Regions from separate parts of the Homo sapiens genome. Here region 2 is linked to region 1. A link means that fine-mapping ties the variant in region 1 to the expression of a gene that starts in the linked region. Tissue or cell type: transverse colon. Region 1 holds a variant in brackets; the other region holds the start of a gene. All regions are shown on one strand. Distances are between the middles of the regions.

Region 1 (5,259 bases):
TGGGATTACAGGCATGAGCCACGGAGCTCAGCCCGCCTCTATCTTAAGCCTCTTCCTTGAGGCTCCAACCTGGGTCTCTGCTTCAGAATTCAACATCAAGAAATGAATAAAACAAGGGCCCAGCCTGAGCAAAATAGTGAGACCCTATTCCTACAAAAAATAAAAATAGTTTTTAAAACAGAAATGAATAAAACAAAAAGACACAAACAAAACAAAGCCTCTTTGAGGACAAGAGCCCCACTAAGCTGGGACAAATCTGATAAAACCCCAGAGCCTAGGTCTGGGCTGCTGCTGAACTCTCCTGACATTATGGTCTGCCAGGGACAGGTGTCTTTGCACATCTACGGTGACTAGTCCACTCACTCTACACCCCGTCCTGGTTGTGGCAAAGAGACTATACGTTGTCCACCTAGGTCAGGGTTTCTCAACCTCAGCACTACTGATATTTTGGATGAGGAGCCCCCAAGATGTTGTCGGGGAGGCTGTCTTGTGCATTGTAGGGTGTTCAACAGCATCTCTGGCCTCCACCCACTAAATGCCAGTAGCAATGTCCCCATTTGTGACAAAAATATCTCCAGACATTGACAAATGTCCTCTGAAGGCAACATCATCCCCATTTGAAAAACACTGCTCTAGCTCCATTCCCTCCCTTCTTTTTTAGTAATAAGACTTTTGATTTTCAGCTGGCACACAGTCAACAGGAAAAAAAACACCAGGCAGCTAGCTGCAAGACCACCCTCGCAATGAGGCAGCAGTACAACTTCCAGAAAGTGTCTCTAAAGGGAAAGTGTGCATCCTATACCCCTTCTTGCTTCCCAAGGGTGAGAACACTTATGCGGGGGCTGCAGCTGTATCACCTCATGGGTCCAGAAATCAAAGTCAAGGGGTAAGATGGCAGAGCAGTAAGAGGGAAGGAGGCTGGGTCCCAGATGACCATGGAGTGCCATGATAGAGATGGCCTCTACCACCAGACTTAATTCATGCAAGATAAATGAATTTGTGTCACTGCTGTCTTGGCCTAACTCCCCCGGAGCTGAGGTTTAGCCTCTGATGAACTCTTCTGACACCATGGCCTCTTGTCAGTCACAGTCAAATCTAATCTTAAGTAACATACAAGATATAACTCAGCAGTGCTTGTGGCTTTAATTATCCACTGTCTGGATGCCCGTTGACTGTCAATTTTTTGCCTCAGCTCAATTCTAGTAGTTCACCAGACCCCTCCACATGGCCACCATCCTCTCCCCATCCCGCCCTCCCCAGGGGCTTCCTATCTCAAAAAGGTACTCCCACTTCCTTAGAACTCTGTGAGTCATCTCTGAATTCCCTCTCTCCCATTCCATCTCTCCCACATTCACAATGCCCCAAAGTCCCCAGTTCTCCTCCACTCTACCCCTAATGCCACTGTTGCAGTTCAGGCCCTCACCACTCCTCCCCTGGTTCACTGTCACTACCTCCTAACTACCCTCCCTGCCTCCAGTCTCCACCCCACACCCCCACCTGCCGCCCCCCACCTCCTGAAACGACCCCCTCCCCAGACTCCCTTGGTCTCTAGGGCAAAGTCCAACCTTTCTGGGTGACCAGCATCCCCGCTCCCCTCTCCCACCTCACCTCCCAGTCCCCCACCTCTTACTTATAGCCAATAGGAGACTACACAAAGAGCTGACCATGGCTCCAGTAACCCGGTAACCCACTGTGACTCTGTTCCCTCTGTCTCCAATGTCCTTCCCTGCCACCTCTGTTCTGTAAACTCTAACTCCTCCTTTGAGGCCCAGGCAAAGAAACCTCCTCCTCAGGTTTCGACTGATTCCCTCAGCAAACACAGCCCATTGATGTCTGCTCTCTGCTGCCACAGAATTTGCCTGTGGGTCTAACACAGAGCTTGTCCCATTGCATTTATGAGTTGGAGTGCCTGTCTCCCTGACTGGCAGTGAGCAACCTGAGGAAAGATCCCATTTTATTGTACTTGGAATCCACGGCTCCTAATGTAATGTTGGCATGGAGTAGGTGCCCAATACACCATATGATTATCCATTTACTAAGTCCTTGCTATGTGGTGGGCCCTGAGCAAATGCTTTATCTAAATTATCTTATTTCATCCTCAAAATCGCCTTGCCAGGAGTGATTGTCTCCCCCTAAGAGATGAGACTACAATTCCAAGAGGCTGAGCAGCCACTGCAGGTGCCACAGCTTATGCACAGCAGTGTCAGAGACAGATTCTCCATCTGCCACACCCATCTCTCCCTTGGGATCTTGCCTCCCCTGCTGCCAACTCCAGACATGGTCTTCAGGGAAACACTGACCCCCAGAACTAACCAGATCTGGGTGTAGAAAAAGCTCTTTATCCTGTTATTCGGTTAACTTGGGATTTCTTAAAAAGGAAGTTTTAATGGGAAACCAAGAGAAAGCCACACACACACACACACACACACACACACACACACACACACACACACATTTTAACAAAACAAATGGGCAATACCAGGTCCCCTCTGAGCTTTTGTTTTTTTTTTTTGAGATGGCAGTGGCACGATCTCAGCTGACTGCAACCTCCGCCTCCCAGGTTTAAGCGATCCTCCCACTTCGGCCTGCATCACCATGCCCTGCTAATTTTTTTTTGTAGAGACAGGATTTTGCCATGTTGCTCAGGCTGGTCTCAAGCCTTGAAGATTGGCCTCAAGACATCTGCCCACCTCAGCCTCCCAAAGTGCTGGAATTACACATATGAGCCACCACCTCCCCTGGCCGCTCTGAGCTGTTATTTCCTCCTCTCTAAAACCAGCAGGTGAGACTAGACGTCTCAAAGATCCTTATCAGCCCCAATATCCTGTGATTCCATGGATGGAATAGTTTCTCAGACTGGACGGTGGGCTGACGAATTGTGTTGGGGAGGGCAGTCCCCTAGGGACACAGGCTTCATGGGGAGGAAGGCCAAAAGCAGACCAGCCCCACACACCCTGCTCTTTAAGACTCCACTTTAGAGGTCCAAAGGGAGAAAGGGGCC[G/A]GGCACGGTGGCTGACGCCTATAATCCCAGCACTCTGGGAGGCCGAGGCAGGTGGATCACCTGAGGTCCGGAATTCGAAACCAACGTGGCCAACACGGTGAAACCCCGTCTCTACTAAAAATACAAAATTAGCTGGTCGTGGTGGTGGGTGCCTGTAGTCCCAGCTACTCGGGAGGCTGAGGCAGGAGAATTGCTTGAACCCAGGAGGAGGAGGAGGTTGCAGTGAGCCAAGATCGTGCCACTGCACTCCAGCCTGGCTCCAGCCTGGGCCACAGAGCAAGACCGGGTCTCAAATAAATAAATAAATAAATAAAAAGGGAGGCCAGGCGTGGTGGCTCACACCTGTAATCCCAGCACTTTGGGAGACCAAGGCAGGCAGATCACGAGGTCAGGAGATCTAGACCATCCTGGGGCGGGCGCCCGTAGTCCCAGCTACTCGGGAGGCTGAGGCAGAAGAATGGCATGAACTCGGGAGGCGGAGCTTGCAGTGAGCCGAGATTGTGCCACTGCACTCCAGCCTGGGTGACAGAGCGAGACTCCATCTCAAAAAAAAACAAAAAACAAAAGAGAGAAAGGGATGGCTGGCCTAATAGCCTTCTGGACCCTCTGATAATCCTCCCCAGGGTGAGTGTGAGTTTGAAGCCAGATAGGCCTACGGCTTGGAGTCCAGATCTGCAAGCTGCCTGCTGGATGTTGAAGGGTCCTGTCTCCTCCCTAGGCCTCAATGTAGGCATCTTCCCTTCTGTGGGCCACCCCCTCTGGTCCCAAGCCCTGCCTGGCCCCTCCTCCCATAAAATTATGACAACAGAGAGTGGAGGCTTGTGGGCAAGTTCCTGAGGAGGCTCAAACTCAGCTGTAACCCTTGGAGCCACCGTCATTTCCCCTCTCCCGCCTCCCCAGCTAGGAGGCTGAGAAGTTTCATCACAGCTGAGCTGTTGTCCTTATAAGGGAAAGTCCTCCGAAGCCTCTCCTTTGGGCCATAGCCAGCTGGTGGAGAACCTGCCCAGGCCTTGGGGTATCCTCCCAGTGCCAGGAAAGGTGGGGGTGCCCCAAGGACTCTGGGGTGAGCCTCCATCTGAAATCACAGACCCTCCAGACAAATAGCAGAAAGCAGTCAGTTGTGGCCCCAGGCCAAAACCCCAGGAGGGTCAAATCCCAGGTCCTGACACTAACTTTGGTCCCCTACCTAAGTTGCTTAAGCCTCAGTTTCTTAACCTGTAAAATGGAGTGAAATTACATCTTCCTTGTGAGGCCACTGTGGTGACTGTGAGAGGTTAACAGGCCTGGCAAACAGTAGGTGCTCTGTGAGGCCAGGCTGCTGGAGTTTATTAAGCATTTTCTTTTCTTTTTTTTTTTTTTTTTTTTGAGACATAGTCTCACTCTGTTGCCTCCTGAGTAGCTGAGACTACAGGCGCCTGCCACCACTCCTGGCTAATTTTGTATTTTTAGTAGAGACGGAGTTTTCCCGTGTTGGCCAGGCTGGTCTCGAACTCCTGACCTCAGGTGATCCACCCACCTCAGCCTCCCAAAGTGCTGGGATTATAGGTGTGAGCCACTGCACCTGGCTACCCCTGGGGTTTGAATCCAGGTGTGTCTGCCTCCAAACCTGAAGTCATGTTTTCTCTACTTACATCCTGCTGTTTCCTCTAAGAATTTTGTTAAATTATGTCAACAGGGAGGAATTTCCATCATCACCTCTCCACCATCCATGTTCCATCACAGAGCCTCCTTGGTCACAGAAACCTCTGTGGAGTGAGTTTGTCTTTTCTGACACCCCTTTTGTCTGGGACATGAGGGTAGGGGTGGGGAGGCAGGAAGACAAGACAGGGAGAAGGGAACAAAACACAGTGACTCCCGAGACAGGATGCCGCCAGGGCCTAGGCAGGGGTAGAGGAAGGGGCAATCTGGTTGCCCCTCCCCCTGTCCTGGGTCCTGTCTGATGATAGCCACCTTGTGATTTGTGAAACCCTCTACTGGGCTGGACACGGTGGCTCACGCATGTAATCCCAAGCACTTTGGTAGGCCAAGGCGGGCAGATCACTCATGGTCAGAAGTTCGAGACCAGCCTGGCCAACATGGTGAAACTCCATCTCTACTAAAAATACAAAAATTAGCCAGGCGTGGTAGCGCACGCCTGTAGTCCCAGCTCTCAGGAGGCTGAGGCAGGAGAATTGCTTGAACCCAGGAGGCGGAGGTTGCCATGAGCTGAGATCACACCACTGCACTCCAGCCTGGATGACAGACCGAGACTCCGTCTT
Region 2 (5,168 bases), 37 kb before region 1:
TTTAAAAATTAGCCAGGTGTGGTGGCACATGCCTGTAGTCCCGGCTACTCAAGAAGCTAAGGCAAGAGGCTTGCTTGAGCCCAGGAGTTTGAGGCTGCCAATGAGCTATAATTGCACCTCTGCACTCCAGCCTGGGCAACAGAGTGAGACCCTGTCTCTAAAAAGAAAACAAAAACAGGCTGGGTGCAGTGGCTCACACCTGTAATCCCAGCTCTTTGGGAGGCCGAGGTGGATGGATCACGAGGTCAGGAGATCAAGACCATCCTCGCCAACATGGTGAAACCCCGTCTCTACTAAAGATACAAAAATTAATTGGGCATGGTGGCACACACCTGTAGTCCCAGCTACTCGGAAGGCTGAGGCAGGAGAATTGCTTCAACCTGGGAGCTGGAGGTTGCAGTGAGCCGAGATCATGCCAGTGCACTCCAGCCTAGTGACAGAGCGAGACTCCATCTCAAAAAAAAAAAAAGAAAACAGAAACAAAAAAATCTCTGCTTGTATGAGTGACACCAACAATCCCCAGACGAATAGATGCCTGTCCCCTCTCCCAAAGTGCTCACACATACTAGCACAGAGACAAATATTTGCTGGCCCTTTCCATAGTCACTGCAGGGCAAGTGACCCCATAGCCTGCATGTTTGGTCCAGTATGAATGTCTGAACCCAGCCCCTTTGTGTATCCAGGGACAGGTGACGAGTGTCTTGGTAGGGAAGGCTAAGATGCACTGAGGTGAGAGACAGGCCTGCCATGCAGTTTGTTTTTCTAGATAAATTCCACACAGTCTTCTCCAGATGAGAAAGAGGATCTTGAGCTTTCTGGGGCCTCATGGATACAACCTGTGGATCTCAGAGTTGCTACCCTGGGGGGCAATCACACAGTCCTGGGTTCAACTCTGGCTTAACCACTTCCTAGCTGTGTTAGGCAGTTTCCTCATCTGCAAAACAGGAGTGCGAGCTTCCCTACAAGGTTAATATCATGATTAGAAATGAGATATGAAAACCCCCTGGCACAGTGTCTGGCACATAATGACCACACCGCCACCACCACCACCATCATCATCACTATTATTCCTCCAAGGCAAAGGGTCAAATTCTGGTAGCCAAAGAGAGCTGCCACTTCAGATGTGAGCTTACAGAGGCCTGGGTTCTAGTACCTTCCCTGCCACTTTCCAGCAGCAGGATCCTGGGCTAGTCACATCCCCCTTGTAGGTCTGTTTCTTCCATTGTAAAACTGGGGGAGGGTGAAGAAAGAGATCTGTATAGGTCCCTTCCTGTCTGGCACCCTCTATCTTATGTGCAGCTTAGGGGGATTGGCCTGGTTTGTATTGGCAAACAGCCAGGAGTTCCAATGGGAAGCCAGCAGACACTGCATAGGGTCAGGCCAGAGAAGGTTAAGTTAGAATGAAATCAAGTCCAGTCTCATCTCTTCCATCCACCTCCCATCCGGCACCCTCTTTCTGGCCACATCCAATACCCACTGAGCTACCTGAGCCTTTGCCCATGCTGGGTCTTTGTCCAGAATTCTCTGCCACACACCCCAATGCTCCATTGGTACACATTCTTCGCAGGCCCACTCAAGTGATCCTCCGCCCCAGGCAGAACCATGTACCTAATCTTGATTGAGCATTCCCACCCCCAACACATCCCTCAGCTGAGTAGATGCAGTGTGCCAGCATTTTGGACACTATAGGTCTCAAAGGAATCCAGTGAGCTGCACTATGCGCTTTTGAGGGAAAGCCCCGGGATTCAGCTGTCAGGATTCAGCCAGGGCTGCAGGATCAAGGACTCACAGTGCAGACACCGACACAATCTTTCTCTCCCCTCTCCCAGACGGTGCAGCCAAAGCTGCCCCAGGCCAGCTGATGCCCACACAGACGCTGCTGCCCGGCCTAGAGGCCCTGGCACTGGGCGCACTCCTTGAGGGAGGTTCGGAGGTGCCCTCATTCCACCTGTGGCCAGTCAGGCTCCTCTCCTCTGAGTGCGTGCCCCATCTGATGCGGTCTCCACTCGCTATCCAGCCCCAGCATTCCGGGTGAGCTGGGCCCTTCAGCACTTCTACCACTCAATGGCTGTGTGACCTTGAACAACTCATTTGAACACCCTGTGCCTCAGTTTCTCATCTGCGAAATGAAGATAACATAATGTCCTACCCATATGGCCGCAGCGAAGATCAAATGACGTGCCTCTCCTGGGTCAAGGCCTGGCACACAAAGTACAGCACGCAGTCAAGGATCGCTATTACCTTTATTATTTGTAGCTAACCTCTCAGCCGCTGCTCCCCGCTCACCTGGCGGGTGTGGTCCCCGAGTCCCAGACGCACTGGCAAGGTCCCCTCGGCCCAGTGCGCGGACCGGTAACCATTCCGCTCGGAGCCACACAGACGCCCCACACGGAGGTGGCCGTTCGGAGGGCGCCAACCTCACCCCTGGCACTCCCCAAACGGATGCGGGGGTCCTCTCGGCCTCGGCCCGCCCCCCTCCCTCCTCCAGGCAGACTCACGGCCGTCGGTCTCCCACGCCAGCTCCTCCTGCATCCTGCCGCTCCGCAGCCCCTGCGCGCGCTGGTGCCCGGGCGCGAGGCGCGCGTCCGCCGGGGCGGGGCCCGGGGAGCCGAGAGGACGGGGCGGTCGCTCCTCCAGACTCCACGCCCCGCCTGCTAGGAGCGCAGCTGCCCCGGCCACCCCAGTCCCGGACCAGGACGCAGGTCCCTCCTCCTGCTCTCTTAACCTGCCCACCCCTCCGCGCCCGAGGCCGGCGGGTCGGGGCCACGCCGAGTTCCGCAGGTGTCCCTGACCCAGTCTCCTCCCCGGGAGTTCGCCCAGCCTCCCCGGCCCTGGAGATAGATGCGCACAAGGCATCTGGCAGGCTCATCCTCCTCGCGCCTCTCGGGACTCGGGGAGGAGGGCTGAGCCTTGGGCCCGCCGCCTCAGGCGCAGAAAGTCAAACCCCAAAGATGTGAGCTGGCGTTTAAGGGACCACAACCTCAGCAGGTCTGCAAGCATATGAAGAGATGGTCGGATTTATCAGTGTTCAGAAAGATTTATCAGGCCCATAAAGGGACATGTAGGAGGATGTTGGTTGCTGTGTTGCTGTGGTTGCTGGGAGTTGGAGACAATCTAAGCGCCCTTTCTTGTAAGAGCAGATGGATAAACTGTGCAGCACTCAAAGCAAGGGACCCGCTGTATTCGTGGCAATATGGATTTAAACACCTAGTGCTAGGCAGAAAAAGTAAATAACCAAACCAAATAAGACCTAGGAAACAATATCAATAAAAATATTACAAATGCATTTACATCAAACAACACAGACTTGCAAAGACACATAGAAACAAAAAGATACACATTAAATACACCAGAATGGGTTGCACTTCAGACCCTTGGGGGATGTCCATGTCCTTTTTGCCTTAAAGGCATTTACAGCTTCTTTGAATTTAGGGATAATGGGGTCTCAGGCATCTCTATCCCAAGGCAAGAAGCCAGCAAAGCCATGATAGGTGTAGTTACTACTACTTTGGGGATCAAAGGAGGAAGAGCATCTTTCAGTCATTAGTCCTTAGAATATAGTTCAAGAAGGCTTCCTGAAGAAGGAGGTATTTGGAATGGCCTTTGAAAAATAACATAATGATAACAGCTAACAATTAATGAGCCCTGAGCCAACCCCTCAAAATGGTCTCAAAATAACAATTCCAACATAATAATCAAAGATATGATTTTTTTTTTTCTGAGACAGAGTCTCACTCTTTCGCCCAGGCTGGAGTACAGTGGTATGATCTCGGCTCACTGCAACCTCTGCCTCCTGGGTTCAAGCAGTTCTCCTGCCTCAGCCTCCCATGTAGCTAGGATTACAGGCACTCGCCCCCACACCTGGATAATTTTGTATTTTTAGTAGAGATGGGGTTTCACTATGTTGGTCAGGCTGGTGTTGAACTCCTGACCTCAGGTGATCCACCTACCTTGGCCTCCCAAAGTGTTGGGATTACAGGTGTGAGCCACTGCGCCGCACCCCCCCCTTTTTGTTTTTGTTTTTTTTTTAAGACAGAGTCTCACTGTGTTGCCCAAGCTGGAGTGCAGTAGCGTAATCTCAGCTCACTGCAACCTCTGCCTCCCAGGTTCAAGCGATTCTCATGCCTAAACCTCCCAAGTAGCTGGGACTACAGGTGTGTGCCACCACACGCGGCTGATTTTTGTATTTTTAGTAGAGACGGGGGTTTCACCATGTTGGCCAGGCTGGCCTCGAACTCCTGACCTCAGGTGATCTACCCACCTAGGTCTCCCAAAGTGCTTGGCCACCACGCCTAGCCAAAGATATTATTCCTGAAAACAGTTTAAATGTTTTTTGTAAAGCTTTTGTCACATGTACATCCCACTAGGGGCATAGTGTCACGTTACTGTTTTAGTCACTTGGAATAGTTCTTTATGTGGTTATGCCACCAACTCAACATGCATGGTTTATTTATTTTGTTTTGCTTTTGTTTTTTGATATTTTTAAATGTTAATTTTGCTTTACAATTATGTAAAGTATTTACATGTTTCAAAGTTAAGTCTCTGAAGGTTGTCATAGTCAGCTGTGGTGATGGATGAAGAGGGCACCACTGGCTTCCAGCCTGCTGTCACTCTCCTTCACTCCACATCCAGCTTTTCTTCCCAGCTGCTGAGCCTGCTGACCAACAGTGGCCCCAGGCCATCGCGGACTTGGCTGCAGACCCAGGGCATTAGTACCACCCATAGACCTCCCCAGGAGCTTTCCCTTGTGGTTCCATTTTAGCAGCTGGACATACTTGGTTTCTCAGATGACTGACTAAGGACTCCTCTGATCCCCAACTCCCCTTCTGGTCCTTCCGCAACTGTGTAAGGCAAATTACTATCACAGATCCCTAATCCCAGGGGTCTCCAACCCCCAGGCTTCAGACTAGTACTGGTCTATGGCCTGTTAGGAACTGGGCCACACAGCAGGAGGTGAGCAGCAGGAGAGCGAGCATTACCACCTGAGCTCCGCATCCTGAAAGATCAGTGGTGGCATTAGATTCTCATAGAAGGGTGAACCCTATTGTGAACTGTGCATGTGAGGAATCTAGGTTGCACACTTCTTTTTTTTTTTTTTGAGATGGAGTTTTGCTCTTGTTGCCCAGGCTGGAGTGCAATGGCTCACTGCAATCTCTGCCTCCCGGGTT

Alleles and levels. Alleles are on the strand shown, and positions count from the first base shown. SD is a standard deviation of normalised expression in the study named.
In carriers of allele A in region 1, the expression in transverse colon of the gene that starts at base 2,561 in region 2 tends to be lower than with G alone (small effect, 0.22 SD a copy in GTEx).

Evidence for each region. PIP is the estimated chance that this variant, and not a neighbour inherited with it, causes the effect.
Region 2: ANKDD1A starts here. The variant in region 1 is fine-mapped to the expression of ANKDD1A in transverse colon (GTEx, PIP above 0.99).

The regions. Positions count from the first base shown.
Region 1 is chr15:64,871,853-64,877,111 of GRCh38, reverse strand. No RefSeq gene overlaps it. Among named protein-coding and RNA genes, the nearest start is that of PLEKHO2, 33 kb to the right of the region's middle. RefSeq lists enhancers at 3,957-4,006, 4,027-4,116. The variant G/A (reference allele first, on the strand shown) is at 3,002.
Region 2 is chr15:64,909,295-64,914,462 of GRCh38, reverse strand. ANKDD1A (ankyrin repeat and death domain containing 1A) reads right to left here and starts at 2,561. Exons shown (of 15, transcript NM_182703.6): 1 at 2,499-2,561. The coding sequence starts at 2,532. RefSeq lists an enhancer at 1,806-2,349 and silencers at 2,536-2,715, 2,916-2,965, 3,039-3,333.